Linked DNA regions of Homo sapiens. The protein of the gene in region 1 purifies or fractionates together with the protein of each later gene. This does not show direct contact. Each region holds a gene or a part of one and is shown in the gene's direction. Other genes may lie near its edges. The genes, in order: STRIP1, BRICD5 and SLMAP.

What was found.
Region 2: the proteins of STRIP1 (region 1) and BRICD5 purify together in Homo sapiens (co-immunoprecipitation; one large-scale study listed by IntAct). This does not show direct contact.
Region 3: the proteins of STRIP1 (region 1) and SLMAP purify together in Homo sapiens (affinity purification with mass spectrometry; 4 studies listed by BioGRID and IntAct, with this or other methods). This does not show direct contact.

Annotation. Positions count from the first base shown.
Region 1 is NC_000001.11:110,040,988-110,044,634, forward strand, and holds part of STRIP1 (striatin-interacting protein 1), read left to right. Parts: intron 1-548; coding exon 549-655; intron 656-746; coding exon 747-874; intron 875-2,100; coding exon 2,101-2,283; intron 2,284-2,651; coding exon 2,652-2,869; intron 2,870-3,331; coding exon of another isoform or gene 3,332-3,350; exon of another isoform or gene 3,351-3,647. UniProt on the Homo sapiens protein: Plays a role in the regulation of cell morphology and cytoskeletal organization. Required in the cortical actin filament dynamics and cell shape. Part of the striatin-interacting phosphatase and kinase (STRIPAK) complexes.
Region 2 is NC_000016.10:2,208,764-2,212,510, reverse strand, and holds BRICD5 (BRICHOS domain-containing protein 5), read left to right. Parts: upstream 1-1,647; 5' UTR 1,648-1,677; coding exon 1,678-1,728; exon of another isoform or gene 1,729-1,817; coding exon of another isoform or gene 1,818-1,860; coding exon 1,861-1,989; intron 1,990-2,229; coding exon 2,230-2,385; coding exon of another isoform or gene 2,386-2,459; coding exon 2,460-2,561; intron 2,562-2,804; coding exon 2,805-2,958; coding exon of another isoform or gene 2,959-3,054; coding exon 3,055-3,149; 3' UTR 3,150-3,258; downstream 3,259-3,747. Other genes in the region: MLST8 (target of rapamycin complex subunit LST8), read right to left, coding at 3,634-3,747.
Region 3 is NC_000003.12:57,906,288-57,909,934, forward strand, and holds part of SLMAP (sarcolemmal membrane-associated protein), read left to right. Parts: intron 1-1,596; coding exon 1,597-1,719; intron 1,720-2,767; coding exon of another isoform or gene 2,768-2,788; coding exon 2,789-2,863; intron 2,864-3,647. UniProt on the Homo sapiens protein: Associates with the striatin-interacting phosphatase and kinase (STRIPAK) core complex, forming the extended (SIKE1:SLMAP)STRIPAK complex.

The DNA of each region.
Region 1 (3,647 bases):
GTATTTTGTATTTGGATGAAACACTTGATGGTGTTCCCTGGACTCCCACCTTCTTGTGTACACAGCTTGATGCTCATCTTCATTGGGTTAGACCTGACAGCTTCCTAATGTTTCATGGCTGCCCAGGAGCTCACAGCAACTGCTGACCACCAAGATCACCCCTCAGTTTTTGAGGGTTGAAATCTGGCTCTTTTTATGAATTTGGAAGTTTTTAGACTAGGTGGTTGTAGTGTTGCCTCCCGGGTGTTAGGATCCCTGGGCGTCACCTCTCAGCTCCTGCTTTCCATTTCCTCATCATAAACCCTGTTTTTGTTCTCACTGTGACCCTGTTCTGCTTTGACCCTACAGCTCGCTACCACCTCTGTGGTTTTTTTCTTTTCAGGAAGCTTAGGGTGGTAAATGCTTTTGGCCATTCTTGTTCATACTCATTTATTCAGATACCATTTATTAATAGTAAGCCCCTGCTTTGTGTAAGCACTTTGTTAGACACTAGGGTGCTCCTTTGACCCCCCCATCCCACTCCATTGTGAGCTGGCTCTTGTCCTCAGGGTCCTGCTCAACATCATGTACCTGATAGTGGAGACCGTTCATCAGGAGTGTGAGGGTGACAAGGCTGAGTGGAGGACCATGCGGCAGACCTTCAGAGCCGAGCTGGGTAGGACCCTGGGGATCCTCTCTAGAGGCCCTGCCTGGAAGCTGAGGCGGAAGGCTTTGGGAGGGTCCTGATACCTTTGTGTCACCTCCAGGCTCCCCGCTGTACAACAATGAGCCATTTGCCATCATGCTGTTTGGGATGGTGACCAAATTTTGCAGTGGTCACGCCCCTCACTTTCCCATGAAGAAAGTTCTCTTGCTGCTCTGGAAGACAGTATTGGTGAGCACCTCCTTGGAGGAGGAGAACGGTGCTATGGGATGGGCAGTAGGGAGACTGTTCCTTGAATATCCTTTTGAATATTGAATTATGTGACTGTAAAACTGCTTTGGTAAAAAAAATTATTTAAAAAGCTGCTAAAAGGAGATGACAAAAGAAGGGCCACTATTGTCCCATTGCAGCCAACGAGGACATAGGCCTTGAGTCAGAGTAGGCTGTTGGCTCTCTGACCCCGGAAGCTGTTTTCTGTCATAGAACAGCTCTCCCCCAGACAAGTTGCCTCTCAGCAAGCAGCTCTGGACCTGGAGTTTGTAAAGGGATTTGAGGCAAAGTTACAGCTGATGTAATTGGGGCCCTGGTTGGATATCACTTAAAGGGGCAAGAGTGAGCCCTGAGCCAGCCTCCATTTTCTTCAGGGTATGGTGTCAGCCCGACTCTGTGTCTAGGTAGGGAGGGACTGGGTGCCAGAGTGGGCCGTCCAGCACACTGGGCTTGGAGCGTTGTTAGCAGCCAGGCCATGCCAGGAGGCCTTCCCAGGAGGAGTGACATGGGGAGGCGGTGGAGGTGAGTTGGGCCTCTGCTACACTGGGGCTCATCCTTCCTTTCAGAATGGGTCAACTCTGGAGCCAGGGCTCAGTAAGTATAGGATTTCTTAAAAGTCATTGACACATTTTATCTTGGCCACACATTCTGTTCTTCATAAAGCCTTGCTAAGGCTAGAGAGGAAAGCTGAATTGCTCAGAAACAGTAAAACTAAGCAGTCTAAAGCTGGATGTTGCTGGCGTTTCTGCTTCTTGGGAGATGTTTAGATGAAGCTTTTTTTCTTCTTCTAAAGTTGAGCAACCAACAGTATTTCTAATTTGACTTTGAAAGACTTGCATGTACAACTTGTGAAACATGAGTCTCACCAACTTTTCTAGGAACTTGCAGGGTTAGGCTCTTTGCTTCTTTTTAAATTGAAGAGTATGTCATAGGTGCAGAGTTAGTGTATCTGCACTAGGGTCAGTCAGCCTGCATCTCCACTCTTTCCTTGTTCCTTTTTCTCCTTTCCCTTGCGGATGTCACGGAATTCTCCTTGGGAGTGGCTTCAGTCCATTGTTCAGGAGTTGCCTGGGTCTCTATAAAGACATGGGTCATGATGTCATGAATGTTTCTGAGCCTGACACAATGGTCAGGGGCCAGCCTGTGGACACATTGACCCTGGCTCTGCTTCCCTGTCTGTGATGCAGTGCACGCTAGGCGGCTTTGAGGAGCTGCAGAGCATGAAGGCTGAGAAGCGCAGCATCCTGGGCCTCCCCCCGCTTCCTGAGGACAGCATCAAAGTGATTCGCAACATGAGAGCAGCCTCTCCACCAGCATCTGCTTCAGACTTGATTGAGCAGCAGCAGAAACGGGGCCGCCGAGAGCACAAGGTGAGGACGACAGAGGTCCCTGTGACTCCTGAGGGCCCTCAAGGTGCATGCTTGCAGCAGCACAGTCCTTGGAGGAGCAGGGCTGCTGGAAATGATCTCTGATCAGCCAGTCAGAATCATGCCTCCACAGCGAGGATACTTTGTCCCCAGCTCTGGTCCAGTGTATGGTGAGTGCTCAGCACGTGGTGCTTTTGAGGGACTGGAGCAAGAAGTAGTTGATGGTTTGGCCCCCGTCTTGACTCCCACTGTGGTTTTTCCACTGTTCTTGCCTCTACTGGACACCTGTATGTGCTGTGTCTCCTCTGGCTGCACTTCCCTGGTCTGCGTCCTCAGTTGGCTCTTGTCTCATCTCCCTTCCCTGGTTTCAGGCTCTGATAAAGCAGGACAACCTAGATGCCTTCAACGAGCGGGATCCCTACAAGGCTGATGACTCTCGAGAAGAGGAAGAGGAGAATGATGATGACAACAGTCTGGAGGGGGAGACGTTTCCCCTGGAACGGGATGAAGTGATGCCTCCCCCGCTACAGCACCCACAGACTGACAGGCTGACTTGCCCCAAAGGGCTCCCGTGGGCTCCCAAGGTCAGGTGAGTCTCAGACCTCCAGAGCACTCATAGTTCCTGAGGCAGAGCCCTCACACCCTCAGGCCTGCCACCTGGCCTGTGTCACCATGTGTGGTCCTCTGCAGGGCAGGCTGACCGTGGCTCTGGGATGAGGCTCTCTTAAAGCACCCTGTGCTGTCCTGAGGGTCTCAGGGAGGCCGGCCTTGCTGGTCTCACACAACATGGCCCTCATGTGGCTACTGAGGCAGTAATTGGAGTTAGCTCTTGGTTAGATGTGCTAGTGAAGGGGGATAGGAAACAAATAAAAACAAAAGCATTTAAGCAAACATGTCTCCACCCATCCTGGGGTTGTGTATGGTTTTTAACAAAAATGATAGATTAAGGAAGAGTTTCTTTAGAGCCATAATGAAAATGTTTGAGATATATGTGGGTAAATCGATGGATGGGACGGTACCTGGAGATATATAAATGGTGTCTGTTTGATAGGCAGCAGCTTAAGAAATAGATGAACATGTGAGAGGATATAGAAGTCGCTTTCTTGATCCAGGTAAAGCCTCAGTTTTCAGTGATCTGTGAAGGGAATGCAAAACAGATCATCAGAAAATGCAAGGTATGCTGATTGTTTGGGATAGGAAAAGTGAGCTATATGAAAAATCAGTAGCCTATAGCTTTAATTGTTTAAAAGTTTTAATATTTAAGAAAGTCTGTTGACAAACTTGTTCATACTATCTGAATAAAGCATGTTTTTAAGTTTGATATATCCCTTTAATTTTATGAATAAACTAGTTAACATGTATTTCCA
Region 2 (3,747 bases), on another chromosome or scaffold:
CGCCAAGGTTCTGGGCGGGGCTCCAGCCTCTCCTGCCTGCTCCTTGGCTCTGCTGACCTTTCACAGGCCTGACAGCAGACTCAGCAGGGCCATCCCGGGATGCTGCACCTTCTGGCTGGCTCCCTACCAGCGCCTTTCCCTGTACCTGGCAGCTTCTCTCTTGGCCCCACAGTCACAGCACTCCACTTGGTCACAAAGACTTCAGAGCAATAAGAGGCGTCCTGAGCCTTCAGCACCTCCCAGGCCTGGGATATCGGGTTCAGAGGGTGCTGCAGAGCAGCATGAGGGTGGCTCCACCCATGAGGCTGGTGACACTGACGCTGGCTTGGCTAAGTTGGCTCAAGCCGGGTCTGGCCTGACAGGGTGCAGTCACACCAGGAGCGCATGGCAGATGCAGCCTCAGTGATGCCTCTCTTGCCGGGTAGGGGCTGGGAGTCCCCGTGCATCCTGTCTCTGGCCCATGAGGGGCTGCAGCACTGTGGGCGCCAGAGCACAGATTAAACTCTCAAACCCACACTGGCTCAGGTGTCCTTGCTCTCACCTTGCATTGGCCCGGGTGATGCCGTCTCACCACGGGTGGGAGGACTCAAAGTAGATGGGTAACTGGGGTTCCAACTCCAGAGCTGGAATGCCAACTGCCCACTCCCAGCCTGGTTCAGAGGAAGATGTTTTGAAGAATGAGGGAAAGCCAGGCACAAAGGGAAGCCAGGGAAGCAAAGGGCCCTGGAGTGAAGCTGGTGGGCTGCCGTGTCAGAGCGCCCAGGGCAGGGAGCAGAGCTCAGAAGTAATGCTGGCCCGGGCGCAGTGGCTCACACCCGTAATCCCAACGCTTTGGAAGGCTGAGGCAGGTGGATTACTTGAGATCAGGAGTTCAAGACCAGCCTGGCCAAAATGGTGAAAACCCATCTCTACTAAAAATACAAAAATTAGCGGGACTTGGTGGCATGTATCTGTAATCCCAGCTACTAGGGAGGCTGAGGCATGAGAATTGTGTGAACCCGGGAGGCAGAGGTTGCAGTGAGCTGAGATCACGCCACTGCACTCCAGCCTGGGGGACACAGCGAGACTCCGTCTCAAAAAAAAAAAAGTTGGGCTAGGCGGGCCCCCGAGGCTGGCCTGACTGTCCCAGGGGCACAGGCTCCAGCAGGCTGCCTGTCTGTGGTCCAGGCTTCAGGAACCCCCGGTCTTGGGTGTGCGGGGGCTGGGAAGTGGCTGGGGGTGCACAGTCCCACACCTGTCATTCACTGAACAGGCACGTATTGACAGCTTGTGGCGTGTCAGGCCCTGTGCCCAACTCTGGGAGTCAAGGATAACCTGACAGACTCAGGCCACTTTAGGAAAACGAAATCCACCCCAACCACACTTAGCGAGTCACCCTGGCCGGGCCTGGGCTGCCCTCCAGTCGGTCAGCCGGACTGGATTTCCACGCGGCCGAGCCCTACGCCTCCCAGACCCTGAGCTCCAGTCTGCACAGGCCAGGTGTCTGGAGCCGGGCCTGGTGACAGGCATCCCCCAGGTGGGAGGAGGGGCTGTCCTGGCTCTGACCTGGATATCAGATCCAGAGCTGAGGGGGAGGCGCAGGGTCAGGAGGGGAGGGGTTCTGTTCTGAGTTTCCCCTGGCCAAGGCTGCAGACAAGGGACGCAGACAATCGGCACATTGTGAGCAGGGGCTGCAGGATGGAACCAGCAAGCTGCTGTGCTGAGCGCCCCAAACCTGGGCCTACAGGGGTGAGTGCCTCCCGTTACTCCTGCAGCAAGGACCCAGGGGGTGCCCCAGGCCACCCAGCCCCTCCCTTCCCCAGCCCACTTGCTCCCTGATGTCTAACCCTCATGACCCTTCTGACCCTGATGCACGCCCAGGTGAAGACCAAGCCCTCCTGCGGGGGCTGGAGAGCCGTGAGCCTGCTCCTGCTGCTGCTGCTGCTGGTGCTGGCCGCTGTGGGGGTTGTGGCTGGAGGGCTTCTTGGCTCTGCTCAGGGCCCTCCCAAGGTGAGCCCCTCCTCAGCACCAGGGACATGGACAGTGGAAAGGGAGAAGGGAAGCTGGCATATCCCAGCCTCCAGCAGAGCAAGGGTGCGGAGCAGGCAGTGACACCACCTAGGAGCAGACAGCCAGAGGACCAAGGGGTGGAAGGGCCCACTCAGGGGTGTCAGGAGTCCTGCAGCCCAGAGCTGGAGGCTGTGCTGGGGTTGCACAGCTGCCCGGCTGAACTCCAACTCCCACTGCCAGCCAAGGCTGCAGACGCTGCGAATGACCCTCCCGAGCCCCCACATGCCCCGGCCCAACCAAACCATCCTGGTGGACGTGGCCCGGAACGCGGCGACCATCACAGTGACCCCACCTCAGAGCAACCACAGCTGGGCGGTGCTGTTCGACGGGCAGAGCGTGAGTGGGCAGGGAGGGGTCACCCTGGCAGGTGTCGGTCTGGGGGGCCCCGCCTCACCCCCCTGCCTCCCCAGGGCTGCATCTGTTACCGCCCTGAGGAGCACCAGGTCTGCTTCCTCCGCCTGATGGAGGACAGTGATCGGGAGACCCTGCGGCTGCTGGTGGATACCTCCAAGGTGAGCCGTCCTGCTGGGCGCAGGCCCGGGCCAGGGGCTAGACAAAGGGTCCTGTGTGCAGCCCAGTACGGGACAGGCTGGAGCTGTGGTTTCAGGGAACAGGAAGCTCTCTCCGCCCTAAGCCCAGGCTGCTGACAAGAGCTGAGGGTGGGGACATCACTGGGGGTTGGAGGGTACCCGGCCCTGCCAAGCCAGGAGCAGGGAGCAGCCCTGTCCCACCGCCCACCAGAGCCTTCTCAACAGGTCCAAGAGGCTTGGGTCCCCAGCCAGGACACCCACCACACCCAGGAGCTGCTGGCAGTGCAGGGGAGCCTCGAAGTGGACCCCGCCCAGGCGGGGGCTTTGGTGCAGCGCCTGTGCATGAGGACCCCCATCTACTGGGCCCGGCGAGCAGAGGGTGAGTCAGGACCGCTGTGGGGGAAGGCCAGGCCCTCGGGATGGTTTGAGGAGCTGGGGGCGGAGCCCTTGGAGATTCACGGCACCCTCGCCACAGGGCCCCGGAGACAGCGGCTGATTTATCTCTGCATCGACATCTGCTTCCCGAGCAACATCTGCGTGTCGGTCTGCTTTTATTACCTCCCAGACTGAGCCCCCGACCTGGCCCAGCCTGGCCCGTCCCCAATCCAGTGGGCTGGCCAGGCCACCTGCACCAGGGAGGACAGCTGCTGGCAGGGACTAATAAACCCTTCCACCTGGCCATGGTGGTGGTGTTCTCTATGGACCGAGGCCCTGAAACGCGGGCAGGGAGGGGCAGAGAACACACTAGCTTGGGGGTGGGCACCAGCCTCAGACCCCTCAGCAGCTTTGGGCCCTCGGCCGACTTTCCCAGGCAGTGCAGGCTAGCCCAGTCCAGGAGTGTGCAGCCTGGCTTGGGTCGAGCTCTGTCACATCTGGATAAGCAACTGGGGGCTGAGAGTCCCAGGGCAGCCTGGCCCAGCAGGTCAAGGCGCCACAGGGGGCCATCAGGTCCAGCTGGCGCAGGCCGGCAGGGGAGGGTCTGCTCTGACCTGGGTGCTGCATGGGTCCCTCCAGCTGCCACCACCTGCACCAGGCAGTCCCGAGGGGTCACAGGCTAGCCCAGCACACTGTCATTGAAGGCCAGGCAGACAACAGCCTTCTGGTGGCCGCCATACTCTCTCTTGATCTCTCCAGTCTCCACACACCAGAGCCGGGCCAGGTTGTCCGA
Region 3 (3,647 bases), on another chromosome or scaffold:
TCAAATTTTTTTCTTTTTTTTTCTTTTTTTTTTTTTTTTTTTTTTAGAGACACAGTCACTCTCTGTCGCCCAGGCTGGAGTGCAGTGGCGCGATCTTGGCTCATTGCCACCTCTGCCTCCCAGGTTCAAGCAATTCTCGTGCCTCAGCCTCCTGAGTAGCTGGGATTACAGGCGCGCACCACCACGCCCAGCTAATTTTTAGTATTTTTAGTAGAGACGGGGTTTCCACATGTTGCCCAGGCTGGTCTCAAACTCCTGACCTCAAGTGATCTGCCTGCCTCAGCCTCCCAGAGTGCTAGGATTACAGGCATGAACCACCGCGCCTAGGCCAGAATACAATTTTTCTAGAGAGAAAAATAGGATATAATCTATGAATATGAAAAAAAAATATATATATATATATATATATATATAATTTCCAAAACCTATTGTAATTGTATTGTGAAAGTTATTCTTAGCTCTTTTTTGATGAATTGAAGTTATTATGCTGAGGTACTTATAAACCAAGGTGATACTCAAATAGAATTCATTAGAACAATATGGCTTACCTGATGATATATTTATTTCAGGCAGTGTTCAGTAGCAGAAGGTTTTAAAAAATTAAAAAGCAGAATGATTGGAGAGGAAGGAGTTTAGGGGAAGGGGCATATTTGAAATAGAATGCTGGATTTAATTTATTTCGGTAAAACCACTTAGGTTACATCATTTAATATATTCAGCAGATTTTTGTTGTTGTTGCGGTTTTTTTTTTTCTTTTTGATACAGAGTCTCACTCTGTTGCCCAGGCTGGAGCGCAGTGGCGCGATCTCGGCTCACTGCAACGTCTGCCTCTTGTGTTCAAGCAGTTCTCCTGCCTCAGCCTCCCAAGTAGCTGGGACTACTGGCACCTGCCACCACGCCTGGCTAATTTTTTGTGTTTTTAGTAGAGACGGGGTTTCACCGTATTAGCCAGGATGGTCTCGATCTCCTGACCTCGTGATCCGCCTGCCTCAGCCTCCCAAAGTGCTGGGATTACAGGCATGAGCCACCACGCCCAGCTCAGATATTTGTTATATGTGCGTGTTGGGGAAATGATGATGACAAAGTAGGCTCAGTAGAGCTTTCAGCCTAGTTTTTATTTTGTGTTCCACAACTAGGGTAATTGTGCTAAAATTTAGCTGTTACTTGAAGAAAAGTTTCTTTTTGTTTTCCATATCCAGTTAAGTTCCAAGTGAAATTTTTCTGACTGGTTATCAAGAAATTTCAAAATTGATGAAGAAGTATAGCATTTTGCTCATCTCACTGAATTTCAAGTCTTAATAAGCAATGAGTTATAATCTGTCACTGTCTGTTTATTTTGATGCTAGAATTGTGAATATATAATTTATGTTAATATATTTTTATAATGTCATCACCATGATTACTAATATATATAACTGTATTTGTATTTTCTCCCAACTACTAAAATGCTTACTATAATTTGCTTCTAAGTTTTATTTAACTCAGTTGTTCTATGTTGTTTATGCATGTGCAAACATGAGAGAGATTACCAGTCTTTTATTGTAGATTATAGTGTGATACTAACTCTTGCTTTTAAAATAAACATGTTTTTGTCAGATGACTTGCAGGGTGCACAGTCAGAAATTGAGGCAAAGCAAGAAATACAGCATCTTCGAAAGGAATTGATCGAAGCCCAGGAGCTAGCTAGAACAAGTAAACAAAAATGCTTTGAACTTCAAGGTGAGATCAAGATTACTTTGGTTCTTTAGGGATGTGTGGAGGCAGCACAATATAATTGGGTGGCCCCAAACTTGGAGTCCGGAGGCATGTTCCAGATTCACAACTTTATGAGATATGTGATCTTGGTATATTTACTTGACCTCTCTAAACTTGTGTTTCAGGTCAGTAAAATGAGGAGAGTTACAGTTGCTCTACCTTCACACTGTTGATGTGAAAATCAAGTAAGATCTTTACTAACTGAAAGATCTTAATAGTTAATTGCATATTAAGTACAACAGAAGGAAAACTCAAATTTCTAAATTTTTATTATGCCTAATGTTAGCTAATGTCCTGGCCACATTCTTTTCTAGTAGCTCACTTATCTATAGGTCATAAGCCAGTGGAGTCTGTGCAGTTCCCTAGAGCTTACATTTCTGTATCATTCATAGTAACTACCTGGTTGCAGACAATTAGTATCTCAAAGAGTCTTAAAATGAGAAAGGGAATGACTTCTGGAGCCCTCATGTTCTCCAAGATGGCCTTCCTGCCTAGTAGGAAGATTTACATCCCAGGAGGGAACTAGGAACTTCTTGTTACTACTTCTTTCCTTTCCTAATTCTCAAAGAAATTAGAATTGGTATTCACTTAACTTGAACCTTTTGGAGGATCCAGGCTAATATATTAAATTACAATGAAAAAATATTTGGTAAATAGCAATTATTTAGTTTAGTGTTTACTATGTGCTTGACAGTAAATATAAGAATTTTAAGTCTTTTTAAAAAATTAAGTTCAAAATGCTGATTAACAATTATCAAGACTGTTTCTCATGTTAAGAAAAGCACATATTGTCTTGGTGATACCAGGTCCAGAAAACTCCACTACTCAGTTGAATAGATTTATTACTTACTACAGTTCTGTGCTCCTAAAATCTTTAAACTAACTGCTAATACTGATAATACTTACTGCCTAACTTTTGTTTCTTTCAATAATCTTTTAGGAGAGAATTTTAAAAGAAATTTTCAGCTGCTCAACTCTGAGTACTTTCATTAATTCACAAAACTATTAATAGATACTGTGTTTTTACTTTTAGCTCTTTTGGAAGAAGAAAGAAAAGCCTATCGAAATCAAGTTGAGGAATCCACTAAACAAATACAGGTTCTTCAAGGTATGGAAGACCCCAAGGCTCTTTGAGATTGTTATTGTGTGTTTGTTTTTAGTGATTCAAAAGGAATGGAGGCCAGGCGCAGTGGCTCATGCCTGCAATCCCAGCATTTGGGAGGCCGAGAAGGGTGGATCTCCTGAGGTCAGGAATTCGAGAGCAGTGTGGCCAACATGGTGAACCCCTGTCTCCACTAAAAATACAAAAATTAGCTGGGCATGGTGGTGCATGCCTGTAATCCCAGCTTCTCGGGAGGCTGAGGCAGGAGAATTGCTTGAACCTGGGAGGTGGAGGTTTCAGTGAGCTGGGATTGCACCACTGCACTCCAGCCTGGGTGACAGAGCAAGACTCCATCTCAGAAAAAAAAAAAAAAATGAAATGGAAAGTAAGAAGGCAGAGAGTCCCCATTTTTCATGGCTTTGATTCTCTAGAACCTCACATTTCAACACGGCTCTTGGTGGAGCTTTATTTATTTATTTGTTTTTGAGACAGAGTTTCGCTCTTGTTGCCCAGGCTGGAGTACAATGGCGCGGTCTCACCTTACTGCAACCTCCGCCTCCCAGGTTCAAGCAATTCTCCTGCCTCAGCCTCCTGAGTAGCTGGGATTACAGGCATGCGCCACCACACCCAGCTAATTTTGTATTTTTAGTAGAGATGGGGTTTCTCCATGTTGGTCAGGCTGATCTCAAACTCCCAACCTCAGGTGATCCACCAATCTTGGCCTCCCAAAGTGCTGGGATTACAGGTGTGAGCCACTGCGCCTGGCCTATTTTTTTTTTTTTTTTAAAGA